Homo sapiens: one gene and its partner. The protein of the gene in region 2 purifies or fractionates together with the protein of the main gene of each other region. This does not show direct contact. Each region holds a gene or a part of one and is shown on either strand. Other genes may lie near its edges. The genes, in order: R3HCC1L and LRRIQ3.

Region 1 (8,465 bases), on a different chromosome or scaffold from region 2:
TAAAGGTAAGAAAGAAGCTGGCAAAACATAGCACAGGCATACCACATCAAAAAAGAGAGTAAAGGAAACATTTCCTAAGCATCTGAATCTGCAGATATCTGGTAGTCAACATGGCACTTGAAGGAAGTAAAAAATATATACTTCAATTCTAAACTCCAAGACTTTGCCTTGACCAACAAACCATTTTTCTCTATAAGGCTTTCCTCCTTGGTTTTTCTCAACTCTCACTCCCTGCAGATACATACATACCAATGCCATCATTAGCATCAGTCACTAAGAAATGCCATCTTGAAAAAATGAAGGTCACCAAGTCTCCCAGACCCTATCCAATAAGCTTAAATTTTAAAGTCTAATAGTCTGGCTTAAAAAAAATAAAAATAAAAATAAGGCAGGAAGACAAAACTGTTCCATAAACGTCTATCCTAGTCAATATCTGAGTCATAAAGATAGATAATTGCTCTGCTACAAGCTACAATGTACAGAATTGCATTCTTACTACAGGTTGTAAATGAAGCACCAGTTCAATTTCAACAAACTAGGTACAAAGCAACATTTGGAATCTCTAGAAAAACAGAAACACAGCAAAGCCCAATAACCTTGCACAACAGCATTTTAGGAACCTCTAAAGTTGAAAAAAAATCTAATATAATTTTTATATAAAATGCAATTGCTAAAAAACAAACTGCAATCTGACAACTTCTATTTACAGTATTTTTTAAAGTTTGTGAATTAAGGATGACTATCCTCATTTTACAGATAAATGGAATTTCAGGAAAATACCTAAAATTATCATCATCACTATTATCATAATCATCAATAACAACAGCAACAAAATAATGAGAACTTTATTTGTACCCAGCACTAGTAAGCCATTTATGGTCACATCTCATTTCATCTTTGTAGACACCTTGTGACATAATGCCATTTACCTCCATTTGAGAGATTAGGAAACAGGCTCAGAGAAGTCAACTAATTTGCCCAAAATCAAAAACTACAGGTTGAGAATCCCTAATCGGAAAATCCGAAATCCAAAATGCTTACAAACTTTTTTTTTTTTGAGACGGGAGTCTTGCTCTGTCGCCAGGCTGGAGCACAGTGGTGTGATCTCGGCTCACTGCAACCTCAGCCTCCCGAGTTCAAGCGATTCCCCTACCTCAGGCTCCTGAGGACATGGGACTACAGGCGCACGCCACCACGCCCAGCTAATTTTTTTTGTATTTTAGTAGAGATGGGGTTTCACCATGTTGGCCAGGATGGTCTCGACCTCCTGACCTCGTGATCTGCCCACGTCGGCCTCCCAAAGTGCCAGGATTACAGACGTGCGCCACCGCGCCCAGCCCCAAAAACTTTTGACACCACCAGTGGAAAATTCCACACCCGACCTTATGTGACAGGTCTTAGTAAAAATTCAATCCAAACTTAGTGTTATGCCCAACAGAGTCTCAATCTATCGGCCAGGCTAGAGTGCAGTGGCCCAATCTCTGCTCACTGCAACTTCCACCTCCAGGACTCAAGCGATTCTCGCGCCTCAGCCTCCCGAGTAGCTGGGACTACAGGCGTGCACCACTACACCTGGTTAATTTTTTGTACTTTTAATAGAGATGGGGTTTCATTATGTTGCCCAGGCTGGTCTTGAACTCCTGAGCTCAGGCAATCTGCCTGCCTCAGCCTCCCAAAGCGCTAGGATTACAGGCGTGAGGCACCGCGTCTGGACACAAATTATTAAATTATTAAAAATACTATATAAAATTACCTTTAGGCTATGTATATAAGGTATATATGAAACCTAAATCAATTTCATGTTTAGATTGGGGTCCCATCCCAAAGATATCTAACTATGTATATGCAAATATACCAAAATCTGAAATTTGAAACACTCTGGTACCAAGCATTTCAGATAAGGATACTCCAACCTGTAGTAAGACACAGCACCAGGACTTGAACTCAAATTTGCTCGAATTTGTACACTAAGCTAATGCAACTTACTGTCATCCTCTCTTGTTTTTTGGACCATTTTCAAGTATTCTTCAATCAATAAATTCAGAATAAACACAGACTAAAAATACCTAACTACACTTTCTTACCCCTTTAAAAATTAATCGCAGAGGTCGGGCACAGTGGGCACAGTGTCAAACGCCTGTAATACCAACACTTTGGGAGGTCGAGGCGGGAGGATCATTTGAGCCCAGGAGTTAGACCAATCTGGGCGACATAGTGAAATCCTGATTCTACCCAAAAAAAAAAAAAAAACTGATTGCAGAATTAGCATTCTCTGTAAGGGGAAAAATAAGACAATAAGCAACTTGCTTAGTCTCAAAGCTTAATGTCAAAAAAAATTAAACAGATGGGATATTTGGCTATTTATATTCTGAATTTCAACTGTGACACAAGACACAAGACCTGCTGGGGACAGGTATTAGTTGTAGTACAACCATATCTGAGGAACGTTTACTGCTTTATGCTTGTACCTGTGTGATACTGAAGGAAGGTTATAACAGCAAGAGATAGTTGTGTGTGCTGAGGAAGAAGAGTCTAAATTCTGGTGGGCCTTAAAATCCAGATGAAGTTTTAAATTGACTCCACAGGTGGTAACGCCCTAAGGTCACCTCTTCACTAGGAACCTGGCATAAAAACATCTGTATGGTTCAGATTCGTTTCCAAAGACACTTTCCCCCTATTTATTAACTAATTTGATCTTCGTATAGACATGAACCTGGTTTTAAAACTCAACTGACCTAGACTGGAGACTGGGGGATGGCAAGGTTATACCCGAAACATACTTTAGAGTTCAAAGCTTTCGCAGGAATATCACTTCTGCTGAAGCCCACAACCCTGGAAGGCCGCAGGGCAAAGAACATTAACCCCACTTTTCAGACAACGAAACCGAGGCTGCGCTAAACAGACTACTGTACAAAAGATCACAGGTCCAGCCAAGTGGCGGACTGAGACTTCCCCCAGGATATCAGACTCCAAATCCTGTGCTCCTTCCCGTACACAACTGAGAGGGGGCTGCACTCACAAACTTTAAAGATCGGACTTGGGGTTTTTCGCAGGCCTGCCAAGAAAAAGCAGGAAGTACATGCTCCTTTATAGATTGCTCACTCCCAGCCCGTAGCCCGGGGCTCCCGGGCAGCGGAGGAGGCTCAAAGGCGAGGCTCGAAGCGAAGCCCGGAAACCGCCGGCAGCCCTGGGGGCCCACGGCCCCGCAGCCCCGAGGGGGTAACCAGGGACCCCGCTCAATACCTGTTGAAACCCAGAAAAAGCACGTCCTTTCCGCCAGGATCATTTGGGGCGAGCGCCCAAAGCGAGCACGAGCCCCAGTGAGTGCAAAAGAGCCCCGGGAGGGTCCCTCTCAACCGCGGGCCCGCAGGGGTCAGAAGGCGGGAGCTTCCCAGTAACCTCCGCCCCAGGCAGGGGGCGGCCCCTCGCGTCACATGAGGAAAAAAAATACCAGCAACAAACGACGGAATGGAAGTCTTGTCCCGGGCTGTGAAGGGAGAAGTGGGGATTAAAAATCCTAGCTTGAGGTACAGAGGGAGGGGATACGGGGCTGGTTGTTACCGGCGCGCTGTTGCTCTCCGCTTCCGCCGTCTCCGCGAAGCTCTATCTCTTCCGCTCGCGCCGCTGGGGCGCGCGTCAGGCCTCGGCTCCGCCCCCAACGCCGTGGGGCCTTCTGGGGGTTGTAGTTTCCGCGAGGCCCGGCCGCGCCCACTGAGTTCAGGTCACGTAGGGGAGAAGCTGGCAAAATGGCGAGTGCCGGAGAGCATTTCTGCTCCTGTCCCTTCAACCCTTCCTCATTCCTCTCGGCTATATACGTGCGCAAATCTCCTTACATTCCACTCAATTATACCATCTCACTTCCTCCGTTCACAGCCAAGTTTTTTGAAAAAGATAATCTACACTGTCTCTACTTGCTCATCTGTGTTCACTCCTCATCGCAGCTTCCGCCCCCATGGAAAATGCCTTGTTGTCATAAGTGTCCTTGTTGCCAAACTCATTGGAGGTATTTCCGGACTCATCTAACTCAAGCTTTAGTCATTTGACGCTATTGGGCATTATCACTTATTTTCTATGACACTATCCAGGTTTTCCTTCTCTGAATTCATTCTACTTTGTTTCCTCTAACTTACCTCTAAAATATTGGTGTTTTCCAGAGTTCTTAAAATTGGGGTGGGAGAGGGGACACTCCAGTCCCTTCTCACCTGAGCTCATTGTTTGTATTCCCAACTTCCTAGACAAGACCTCTCCTCATCCATGCCCACAGGCATCTCCAGTGTCCTTGAAAAGTGAACTACTGGGGCCAGGAACAGTGGCTCATGCCTGTAATCCCAGCACTTTGGGAGGCCAAGGCAGGTGGATCACCTGCGGTCAGGAGTTCGAGACCAGCCTGACCAACATGGTGAAACCCTGTCTCTACTAAAAGTACAGAAATTAGCTGTGCGTGGTGGTGGGCACCTGTAATCCCAGCTACCCAGGAGGCCGAGGCAGGAGAATTGCTTGAAGGAGAATCGCTTGAACCCGGGAGGCGGAGGTTGCAGTAAGCCAAAATTGCACCACTGCACTCCAGCCTGGGCAACACAGGGAGACTCCGTCCCCCAAAAAAAGAAAAGTAAACTACTACCCCTCCTCCCTACTCATTAATATTCACTCTTTAACCTGATTCCTCCTTTCTCACTTCCTCTTCCTCCAATATTCAAATGGTCACCAAATCTTGGAGATTCTATTGTAGCAGGACGAGCCGCAGACAAAACCTCTCAGACACCAAGTTGTAGAACGAAGGGCTTTATTCAGCTGGGAGCATCGGCAAGCTACTGTCCTAAAATCCAAGCTCCCCGAGTGCACAATTTCTGTCCCTTTTAAGGGCTCACCACACTAAAGATTTCACATGAAAGGGTCGTGATTGATTGAGCAATCTGGGGTGTATGTGACAGGGGCTTCATGCAGTGGTAGTCAGAGTGAAACAGAACAGAGTACAATGTTCTTCCATACAATGCCTGGAATCTATGCTAAGTCATGAGTTGATTTTTAACTACTAGGTTTAGGCCAGGCAGGCCCAGGCCTGGTTTCAGGTCTGGTTTTGGGTCTGGTGCCTGGTGCTGGGCTGCCTGCCTTTGGTTTCACTTCCTTGTTTTTTTTCTTAAAACAGGTACTGAGTATAAAACAATATAAAACAATATGAGAGGGTCTCTTTCTTCTCTCACTATCTCCCAAGTACTCCTTGAATCTGTTCCTTCTTCAGGACTCCTAACTCATGACTCAGCTGCTCCTGTGGCCCCACCCAGAGGTGGACTCAGAGCATGAGGACTGTTTTCCACACCCCTATGATTTCATTCCCAACCCATCAGCAGCACCCATTCCCTAGCCCCCTGCCCACCAAAATGTCCATAAAAACCCTAACCTCTGAACCTTCAGGGAGTTTGATTTAAGATAACTCTGTCATCAATTAAATTCTTTACTGCTCTGCCATGGTCTCAGTGAATTGGTTTTGTCTGTGCAGTGGGCAGGAAAAACTCACCAGGCAATCAGAATCCAGTATTGTGGTTGGGAGGTTCAGTGAAAGAAGATTTATAGGAAATCTTACTGTAGGGTAGGTGGACATGGGCATTTTTTAAAAAATTCCCGAGGAGGCCCACTGTGGTGGCTCATGCCTGTAATCCCAGCAACTGGGGAGGCTGAGGTGGGAGGATTACTTGAGCCCAGGAGGTCAAGACCAGCCTAGACAACATAAGGAGATCTCATCTCTGCAAAAAAAAATTTTTTTAATTAGCCAGCCATGGTGGCACAAGCCTGTAGTCCTAGCCACTTGGAAGGCTGAGGTGGGGAGATTGCTTGAGCCCAAGAATAAAGTTATGGTGGGCCATGATTGTGCCACTGCCCTCCAGCCTGAGCAATCCTGTCTCAAAAAAATTAAAAATAAAATAAAGTTCCCTGGTTATTCAGTCATTCAACAAAATACATTTTGTTGCTTGCTATGTACCAGTGCTGGGTACTGAGAAAACAACAGTGAACCGAATATTACCTGCCCTTGTGGAGTTTACATTCTCTTGGAAGAGACAGATATTAAATGATTTCATACCAAAAATCAAAACCAACAAAAAACCCATAGTTACCAGCTGTAATAAGAATTATGGAGGAAAAGTATTATAATTGGTCCCTTTCCCCTTCTCTCCCACCTGCCCCAGCCCAGATTGGGAATCAGTTTATGTTCCTTACCCTATCAAACAAAGCCTGTCAGGAGCTAATCTCCTTCTTCTCCCTCCCATAGACACCTTAGATTTACCAAACTGCTGTAGCGCTTGCTCTTTAACCTTTGTATAAGCTCTCCCTCTGTTTGGAAAACCCTCTCCCTTCTCCCTTGACTAACTTATACTGCTATGTAATTCTCCTCTGTGGGATTCAGAGGAAACCCAGTAGAACACCAGCCACACGAAAGGATTTTCTGAGGATTGTGCTGAGTCAGATGATAAGCCTCAGGCATTACAGCAGTGGGCTCAGTAGGGGACCCAGAAACAGTGAAATGTGGCCTATGGGGAACTGGACTATGTTATTCAGTTTAGAGGTATCAGGCCAGAGCCAGCATACCCACCCTTCAAAACACAAGTCAAGTATCATCTCCTCCAGGAAGCCTTTGCTGAACTCGGCCCCCCACCCCCACCAAGACAAATTAGTGCTCCTTTCCTGGACACTCATCCCACCCATGTTGGCCTCTCTTCCAGTGATATGCTAGAGCCAGCTCATACCAACTTTGTTATTTATTATTTATTTATTTAATTTTTTAATAGAGACGAGTTATCACTCTGTAGCCCAAGCTGGTCTCGAACTCCAGGGCTAAAGCAGTCCTTGCACCTTGGCCTCCCAAAGTGCTGAGATTACAGGCATAAGCCACCACCCCCAGCCTCATACCAGCTTTAAAGAGACAACTGTTAGATGTTCAGGAATTTTTGCAAGCCGGTTTTAGCCATTGGTAGTTTGAAATCTGCTGTGATTTGTAATGTGTGTGTGTGTAAATACTCCGTGGAAATCAGCAAATGACAAATCAGGGCTTCTTTTTGTTGTTGTTGCTGTCGAAGAGCCAGTTTACTAGCATATCAATGCCTTTGTCATATCACACATCTACATTATATTGTAATGTCCACTCCTCTATTGGAAGAATTCCTTGTATCAACTTCATTGAGCAAATATGTATTGATTTTTATTACTGTGCACCAGAGACTTAGCAAGGTGATGAGGGGGCACGCAGTGGAGAACACACAAGCATGGTCCCTACTGTAACGGAGCTTATAATCTAGCAGATAAAACAAGAAATAAGCAAAGAACTCTGTACTTTCAAATGGAGCAGGCTGCTGTGCAGTAGAACATCCTGGCCATGAATGACAGTTGATATGGTTTGGATTTGTGTCCCAATCCAAATCTTATGTCGAATTGTAATCACCAATGTTGGAGGTGGGGCCTGGTGATTGGATCATGTGGGCGTATTTCTCCCTTGCTGTTCCCGTGACAGTGAGTTCTCATGAAATCTGATGGCTTAAAAGTGTGCGGCACCTCGCCGTCTTTCTCTTTCTCCTATTCCAGAAATGTAGGATGCACCTGCTTTCCCTTCACCTTCTGCCATGATTGTAAGTTTCCTGAGGCCTCTCTGGCCATGCTTCCTGTAGAGCCTGCAGAACCATGAGACAATTAAACCTCTTTTATTTATAAATTACCCAGTCTCAGGTAGTTCTTTATAGGAATGCAAGAACCAATGACTACAGTGATGGACATAAAATACTACACTACTTTAACAAGGTGGTCTAAGAAGACCTCTCTGAGTAGACAACCTTTCCACTGAGCACTGAAGGTTGAGAAAGAGATGGAGAACCGGGGAAAGTGTGCTCCAGCCAAAGGGATCAGACCACACAAAGAAAGAGCCAGGCTGTTTGAGGGACAGAGTGGTCCGTTTTCCTGGGGTAGAGAGAGTGTAGTTTAAGTGGTCTAGATGACCTGAGGTGGTAATTAGAGCCAGGTATGCACAGCCTCAAGGCCATGGTCAGAACCCTGGATTAAATTATAGCCACCAAAAAGGGGGTTTTAAAAAGAGGATGATGTTATCTGATTCATATTTTAATGCAATTGCTCCTGCTTTGGTTTAGAAGACTGGAGTAGAAGTGGGAGCCCATCTATTGCAGTAGGCTAGGTGAGAAATAATGAAACAAAGTGCTTGCAGAGGGATGGAGAGAAGTGGGTGTATTTGATCTTTTGAGTCAACAGGACTTGCTGATGGATTGAATATAGGAGAGGATGGACTGGTGAAGGAAAAAGAGGACCCAAGGGCACTAATAGGTTATATCCATCTCTGTATCTTCAGCCCCTAGAATTGGGCCTTGCACATAGTAGGTATACTATAACTGTGTCGAATAAACTTATTTATTTTACTTGCTAAACTCTGTGCCCCATCACTGTCACATTCCTTAATACAGGGCCTCTAC
Region 2 (8,511 bases):
TAAGCCTTAGGAAGTTTGGACAGGTTCTGCTTTTATGCTTTGGGAGCCCTTAAGCATGTAGAAAGTCTGGCTACCCTATTTCAGACACACATGGATAGATGACATGGAGAGGACAGGTCAACATAGAGAGGTCCTGAGACAGTATGGAAAGAAAGACTGGTTCATCTCAGCATTCCAGCTGAACCTAACCTTCCAGCAGTTCACTGGAGGAGTGAACTAACTGATGCTTCAGCCACTGTCAGTTGGAGAACTGCTTACTTCAACTGAGTCAACACACAGAATCTTCAGAGTAACAAAATGATGGTTATTTTAAGCCAATAAATTTTGGAGTGATTTGTTACACTACATAAATAATTGAAAAATAAACCTTTTTTGTTGTTTTGCAAGTGATTATTGGCTGTGGAGAATTAAAAATAAAGGAATTTACAATAGATTTCTACCGAAATGGGAGAGACTTTGTCATTTGTACTTAGAAGTCTTTTACAGGTTCCTTCCCCATAGTTTGCTGTTTCTCTGAGGAAAGGAAAAGACAGACATGTGTATGAAAGAGACATTTATTGAAACCTGACTCAGTTCTAGTTCAGGTCCTATGGAAAAATTTGAAAAACTACCTAACCATAAAACAAGTTTTCTGTTCACAGGGTACATATAATTTAGTGGAAAACAGGGCCATTAAATAATAACATATATAAATATGTAATCACTAAATTGGGGATGTGTGGATAGAATCAGAGTCTAAATAATGACTAGACAATAATTTGCCAAAGAAGGTTACACTGAGAGAGAAGTGTAACATCCTAAGATAGCAGGTTAGCACATTTCATTAACTAAGAAGCCAGGGTTCTTAATAGTTTGGATTTTTTAAATTTTTGCTTTAAGTTCAGGGATAGATGTACAGGTTTGATACATAGGTAATCTTGTTTCAGGGTAATTTGTTGTACAATTGATTTAGTCACCCAGGTGTTAAGCCTAGTGCCCATTAGTTATTTTTCTTAATCCTCTCCCTCCTCCCACTCTCCTCCCTCTAGTAGGCCCCAGTGTGTTGTTCCCCTTTATGTGTCCATGTGTTTTCATAATTTAGCTTCCACATATAAGGGAGAAAATGCAGTATTTGGTTTTCTATCCCTGCATTTTTTTGCTGAGGATAATATCCTCCAGCTTTATCCATGTTCCTGTAAAGGACATGATCTCATTCTTTTTATGGTTGTATAGTATTCCATGGTGTAAATGTACCACATTTTCTTTATCCAGTCTACCATTTATGGGCATTTAGGTTGATTCCATGTGTTTGCTATTGTGAATAGTGGTGCAGTGAACATACGTATATGTGTCTTTATAATAGAACAATTTTTATTGCTTTAGGTATATACCCAGTAATGGGATTGCTGGGTCAAATGTTGTTTCTGTTTTTAGGTCTTTGGGAAATTGCCACACTGTCTTCCACAATGGTTGAACTAATTTACACTCCCACCAACAATGTATAAGCGTTCCTTTTTCTCCACATCACCAGCATCTGTTATTTTTTGACTTTTTTTGTTGTTTTTTAATTTTTATTTCAATAGTTGTTGGGGTACAGGTGCTATTTTGTTACATGGATAGGTTCTTTAGTGATGATTTCTGAGATTTGAGTGTACCTGTCACCCAAGCAGTGTGCACTGTACCCAGTATGTAGTCTTCTATACCTCGTGACCCTCCCAACCTTCACCCTTGAGTCCTCAAAGTACATTATATCATTCTTAGGCCTTTGCATCCTCACAGCTTAGCTCACACTTATATGTGAGAACTTATGATATTTGGTTTTCCATTCCTGAGTTACTTCACTTTGAATAATAGCCTTCTGGGCTACATCCAAGTTGCTGCAGAAGACATTGTTTTGTTCCTTTTTGTGGCTGAGTGGTATTCCATGGTGTGTGTGTGTGTGTGTGTGTGTGTGTGTAAACATATACCTATATATATATATCTATATATCTCTCTCACATTTTTTTAATCCACTAATTAGTTGATGGGTACTTAGGTTTGTACCATATCTTTGCAATTGTGAGTTGTGCTGCTATAAACATGTATGTTCATGTGTCTTTTTTATATAATGAATTATTTTCCTTTGGATAGATACCCAGTAGTGGGATTTTTGGATCAAATGGTAGTTCTACCTTTAGTTCCTTAAGGAATTTCCATACTGTTTTCCATAGTGGTTATACTAGTTTACATTCCCACCAGCAGTATTCCCTTTTCACCACATCCACGACAGCATCTATTGTTTTTTGACTTTTTAATTATGGCCATTCTTGCAGGAGTAAGGTTTTAATTTACATTTCCCTGATGATTAGTGATTTTTTTTCTTGCTTATAATAGTCATTGATTAAAGCTAAAAAGTAGGCAGTTGAACAAAATGGAGGAAAAGACACTGCATTAAGTAACATCAAAAAGATCTCAAATTTGAATTTAATATATCCTTAATTACACTAGTACTTAATTCTTACAATTTTTTTTCTAATAGACATCTTTTTGATTGAAACTGAAAAGTAAACTGTTGTACAAAATGGAAAAAAAAGGCATTGAATTAAGTAATATCATGAGCATTATCCCAAATTTGGATTTGTGTGAACCAATATTTCATTTCTTCCTCAAACTCTATGTCTTATTTACAAGAAGTTTTCAAGTGAGGCAATAGTGCCAATCATACCAATTCCCTTATTATATATTACAAATTTTATGTAGAAAAATATTTGAACATATTTAAGAATTTTGGTGGGAGGGGACAATGTTATTTTATCAGGTTCATTACAACAGTATTTGTTAATGTCACAAAGCTACTAACAAGGTTATTCATCTAATAGCTAAAATTTGAATGTCTCACACAAGTGTAGAACCTCTCATTTTGGAAAATTCTCTAATATATCTGAGATCAGTAAGGAAAATAGAAAAAACTCCACTTTGGAATAATACCATTAGTAGTTCATTGGCATGTTCAAATGGCATATAGATAGCATTAATGCAGAAGGTTTAAAATAAACAATTATTCCTGGTGGATGAATCTATAGACATTACTAACTATATTTGATTAATAGCACTGTTGAGAATCCCTGAAAATAAATGCCAGGAAGAAGATAATATCTTCATAAAGAAATTTCAAAATAGACTGTTAAGAGATGGAATAATCAATGTGAGAAATAAATCCTTTGAAATAAAAATATTTATATATATTTATATAGCTATATATTAAATATAATTATATATATAATTTTGTGTACATATATATAATTTGTGTACTAATGCCATGATTAACAGTATAAAGCCACCTTTAGCATTATGTGAAGAAATGAGATCTCTGAGGTTCCATGTTGATCGGTGTTGGTTTTTCAAGGACTTTTTTTTTTGAGACGTAGTCTTGCTCTGTCGCCCAGGCTGGAGTGCACGCTCCTGGGTTCACACCATTCTCCTGCCTCAGCCTCCCGAGTAGCTGGGACCACAGGCGCCCGCCACCACGTCCGGCTAATTTTTTGTATTTTTAGTAGAGACGGGGTTTCACCGTATTAGCCAGGATGGTCTTGATCTCCTGACCTGGTAATCCGCCCGCCTCAGCCTCCCAAAGTGCTGGGATTACAGGCGTGAGCCACTGCGCCCGGCCCTTTCAAGGACTTTTTATGCATTTATGAGCTAAAAATGAAATGAAAATTAAGAAAATGAAAAGGCAAGCCACAGAATGGGAAAAAAAAACTTTGGAAAACACATATCTGACAAAGGATTGGTATCTGAAGTAATACAAAGTACTCAAACTCAACAATAACACAATACCACAATCAAAATATAATGGACAAAAGATCTGAACAGATAACTCACCAAGGAAGATATACATGTGGCTAATAAGCCACATGTATGAAAGATGCTCAACATCATATATTATTAGGGAATTGCAAATTAAAGCAATGAGATACCATTATTCACCTATTAATATGACCAAAATCAAAACATTGACAACATTATGTACTGGTGAGGTTGTGGAGCAATAAAATCTCTCATTCATTGCTGGTGGGAGTCCAAATGGTACAACCACATTGGAAGACAGTAGCAGTTTTTTACAAAATGAAATATATTATGTGATTCAGCAAACAAACTCCTTGGTATTTATCCAAGTAAGTTGAAAACATATCCACACAAAAACCTGCACATAAATTTTTATAGCACTTTTATTCATAATTGTGTAAAGTTGGAAACAGCCAAGACATTTTCAATAGGTGAATGGATAAATAAACCAAACCATAGTGCATCCATGCGATGGAATGTTATTCAGTACTTTAAAAAATGAGTTATTTTTCTAAAGACTTGGAGGAACCTTAAATTTAAGCTTTCTTTAAATGAGGAAAGACTTATATCTTTTCTATTTTGGAAGTCCAAATGATGTGTATATTATCCTACATCCCAGCACCAATAGAGCTTCATGAGTTTAATTTGTAAAGGTTTATTTATATCTGTGTATTCCATATCTGACTCTATATTTTTAAGACTGGTTTACTTGTAGTTGAGGCTAATCTTTCATAAGGTGTTCGTCGATCACCTGTTAACATTATTCCTATGCCCTTAGCCCAGAAATTCTGATACAGTAGATATGAGATGGGGCCCATGAATCTGCCTTCTAATTAATTCATTGACACTTAGAGCTGGAGGATTCTAGTTTTAGGCCTTGGTTGTGATATATAAAGTAACCAGTGTCTTGAAAGAGTACAAGAGTGTATCTGGATTTTCACATTTATTCTCATTTGAATCACACTGATTTAGTTTATCTGCACATCGTAGAAATCGATTCTTCCATTGGGGAATGTTGATCTTAAAACATACTTCCAAATAGACCACTTCAGCTCATACATTCTCTTCTCACCTATCACTGACTACCTTTTATGAAAGCTGAAATTACTCTTAATAAGTGAAAATTCACATATATGAGAAATACTGTGTAAAATTATATTAAAAACCATTTATCCAAATATTTTAGATAAATTTAAGTAGTCAAAATTTAAAGCTATTAGAATTCTGAGCCTAATTTCCTAATTGAATTGAATGTAAATATTTTGACAACAAATTTTCTCTGTAAGACACAAATATTGTTGATAACATTTGAAGGCCTGTATAGCACCTTTATTTTATCTGGCTGCATTGTTTAGCCTCTTTAACAAAGATTATCACTCTCCTGACTTGTTTATTATTCAGTGTATTTCTTTAACAGTATATTTTAACAAAAATTATCATACGAGTTATATAAAGTATGGTTTCATTTGTTTGTTGTTAGTTGTCTTGTCTAGAAGGGATGATTTTATCTCAGTTTCTTCACTGAATTTTTCAAATATTCTATGAAAATGGAAGTTTGTCTTCCTCTTGCTAATTAGTTCGTTCACTGGTGAGGGCAGTGATAACATTCTGATTGGCTGTTATTGAAATGTTAGATATTTAAGTTATTTTGGGATAGAAAGTTCTATAAGAATGAGTTTTTTTAAATTTTAACTTTAATAACACTTTTTACTTGCGCTATCTCTTGGCAAAATTTTGTTTGTTTTCAGGTAAATTTTTGAAAGTGGAAAAAAAAATCAAAGCACTTTCTTATCTTTCCTAGATGTTTCATGGAACAGTCACAGAAGAGCTAACCAGTCATGAAGAATGGAGTCACTATAATGAAAACATAAGAGAAGGTCAAAAAGATTTTGTTTTTGTGAAGTTCAATGGCCTTCATTTAAAGTCTATGGAAAATTTGCAGTCTTGCATCTCTCTTAGAGTATGCATCTTCTCAAACAATTTTATTACAGATATTCATCCACTTCAAAGTTGTATAAAATTAATCAAACTTGATCTCCATGGAAATCAGGTAAGCAATAGCCATTTCAGATATTTGCATATAAACGAAATTTCAGTCTTATAATAAGTACTTATGTTACCTATCCACAGTATTTCTTCAACATGGTCTTTTGTCTAAAATATAAACAAAAATTTAACAATAAATTAAAAGCATGTAAGATGTATATAAATACGGACACTTTGATGTAAATGAAAATACATAAATAGTGTGTAATCTGGTATGTTTCACTTCTTAAATCTATAGCCTGGATTAAGAATGCCTCATGATTCCTTAATTTTCCTTAGGTAAGGAAAGTATTTTAGAAAAGTTTAAAGAGTCAACCTATTACAAAGAAATTTTCTTTGAACAAAAAAGTATGGTTATGCATTTTACTATGCGAATAATAATAAATTATCTCAGATACCCAGTGTATTATGGTTTTCAACTGGCCATCATTGGATAATTATAAATACTCTGTTTGCTTATTAATTAGAAACTTGCTATTTGGGGAATATTGAATTTTATATGTGTAATATTTTACCATTTTCTGTGCTATTCGAAAAAAGTAATTTTGGAATTTAAAAGATTTTTAATAATATTTCAGATAAAGAGTCTACCAAATACCAAATTTTGGAATGGATTGAAGAACCTAAAACTACTCTATCTTCATGACAATGGGTTTGCAAAGTTAAAGAATATATGTGTATTATCTGCCTGTCCAACCCTCATTGCCCTCACTATGTTTGATTGTCCAGTAAGCCTTAAAAAAGGATATAGACATGTTCTTGTTAACAGTATATGGCCTCTCAAAGCGCTGGATCATCATGTGATTTCTGATGAAGAAATAATTCAGAACTGGCATCTTCCTGAAAGATTCAAAGCATGTAACCATCGACTTTTCTTTAATTTCTGCCCAGCTTTGAGAAAGGTAATTGGCTTCTTTAGGGTTTCATTTTAATTAAATGTATAAAAGGGAAATTTTAGCTTCTGAGTTCTATATCTAAATTATATAAACTTTTTAATATTTTTGCATCATTTATATAAAATAATATAAACCAATGAATATATTTGTAATGTCTTTCTATCTGAAACTTGATAAAAGTTTGCATGCCAACTACATTAAACAAAGCCTGAAATGATCAAATTGTAGAGAAACAAATTTTTGTTTTTTAAATTGAAAGTAAATCTCTAATTTATTCAGAATTTGGTATATGAAAGACTCCATTGAGAAATACTTAATGTTTTTTAAGAGCGTTAAAGGATGACTTAGATTATTATTAGAAGATAAAATATTTAATTCTTACACAATTGATTTGGTTATTTGACAAGATAAAACCATCATTATCTATTGATTTATAAAATGTTAGAAGAAGTGATTGTGAAAAGTTGATACCAAGTTAACGGATACAGACTAATTAAGTGGATTTACAAAAACATAAGGAAACGTTCTTTATAACACATGAATAAATATTAGAACAAATCATTTAAGAGTTCAAAAGAGGGGGTTAAATTAGGTACAAGATATAGTAACAATAAGTTGCAGGAAATGTTTGTAATATGTTCTAAAGATATGTGAAGTCACATATATGTGTGTAGAAATTTTGAGGAAGAATAGAACATAATTTTGAACAGTGAGTATATCTAAAAGAATATATAAACATTGAACAGTGATTATGCGTGGAAAAACTGAAAATTACAAAGTTGGAAGAATTTTATTACTGCATATAATTTTTTTAATTAGGGACATATTAGTGATTTTGTAATAGTTTTAAAAATTTAGGATTTTGGTAATAATTTTGTACTAATAGTTAAAAATATAAAAAACAAGGTAGTATTTAAGTCTGATATCTTAACCTGGGCCCTAAATAAAGAATTTCACTTAGGTACTTCAGTTGCGTAGTATGGCATAATGAAAGGTGGCAACAGGCATGACCCTTTTAAGGATAATCGAAGTGACAGATTCATTTAAGGAAGTAATGGAAAGTTGGGCAGTGGGCATTGAGAAAGAACTTGGATGACCTACTAAAGAGCTTAGACTTGATGAATATAATGAAGATTAATTGAAATTATTTGAGTAGGAAAATTAGGGTAGGTCCCTCATAGTAAGTGCTCTATGAATAAATGGTATTGACAAGGTTTTTAAAAGGTGATCAACCCAACATTTTGCTAGCAGATTAATGGAGGATAGAAGCCAAATGAGGGCAAGGGGATCAATTACTGTAGGTTCAAAATGATGTGATTAGGATTGATATAGGCAGATACCAGTAATAAAGAAGAAAGAACACAGTGTAGAGGACAGACACATATTCAGTGAATGCCATTGTGGTAGGCGCTTTATACATTTTATTTCTTCATTCTTTCACCAAGTATATACTGAGTACCTAATATATGAAAAGGACTGTCTGGGACTTGGAGATTCAGTGGTAAATAATACTGACAAAATTCTTGTCCTCATTAAGTCCAAGGGAAAGGCACAGAGAATAGACAAATCTGGAAACAAAAATAAAACTAAACAACCATAAAATGTCAGCTAGTGTTAGTTGCTAAAGAAAAGAAAGTAAGGCATTAACACAGACTGAAAGGGGTAGAGATTTGGGCTACATTAGCTAGGGTGGATGGGGAAGGCCTTTTTGAAGAATATTTATTCCTCATTGTTTCCTTGGATGTGGAAAAATGTTAGTCTTATT

The links.
Region 1: the proteins of LRRIQ3 (region 2) and R3HCC1L purify together in Homo sapiens (affinity purification with mass spectrometry; 2 studies listed by BioGRID and IntAct, with this or other methods). This does not show direct contact.

The regions. Positions count from the first base shown.
Region 1 is NC_000010.11:98,129,803-98,138,267, reverse strand, and holds the start of R3HCC1L (coiled-coil domain-containing protein R3HCC1L), read right to left. Parts: upstream 3,612-8,465; 5' UTR 3,562-3,611; exon of another isoform or gene 3,244-3,561; intron 1-3,243.
Region 2 is NC_000001.11:74,180,779-74,189,289, reverse strand, and holds part of LRRIQ3 (leucine-rich repeat and IQ domain-containing protein 3), read left to right. Parts: intron 1-5,605; coding exon 5,606-5,854; intron 5,855-6,428; coding exon 6,429-6,752; intron 6,753-8,511.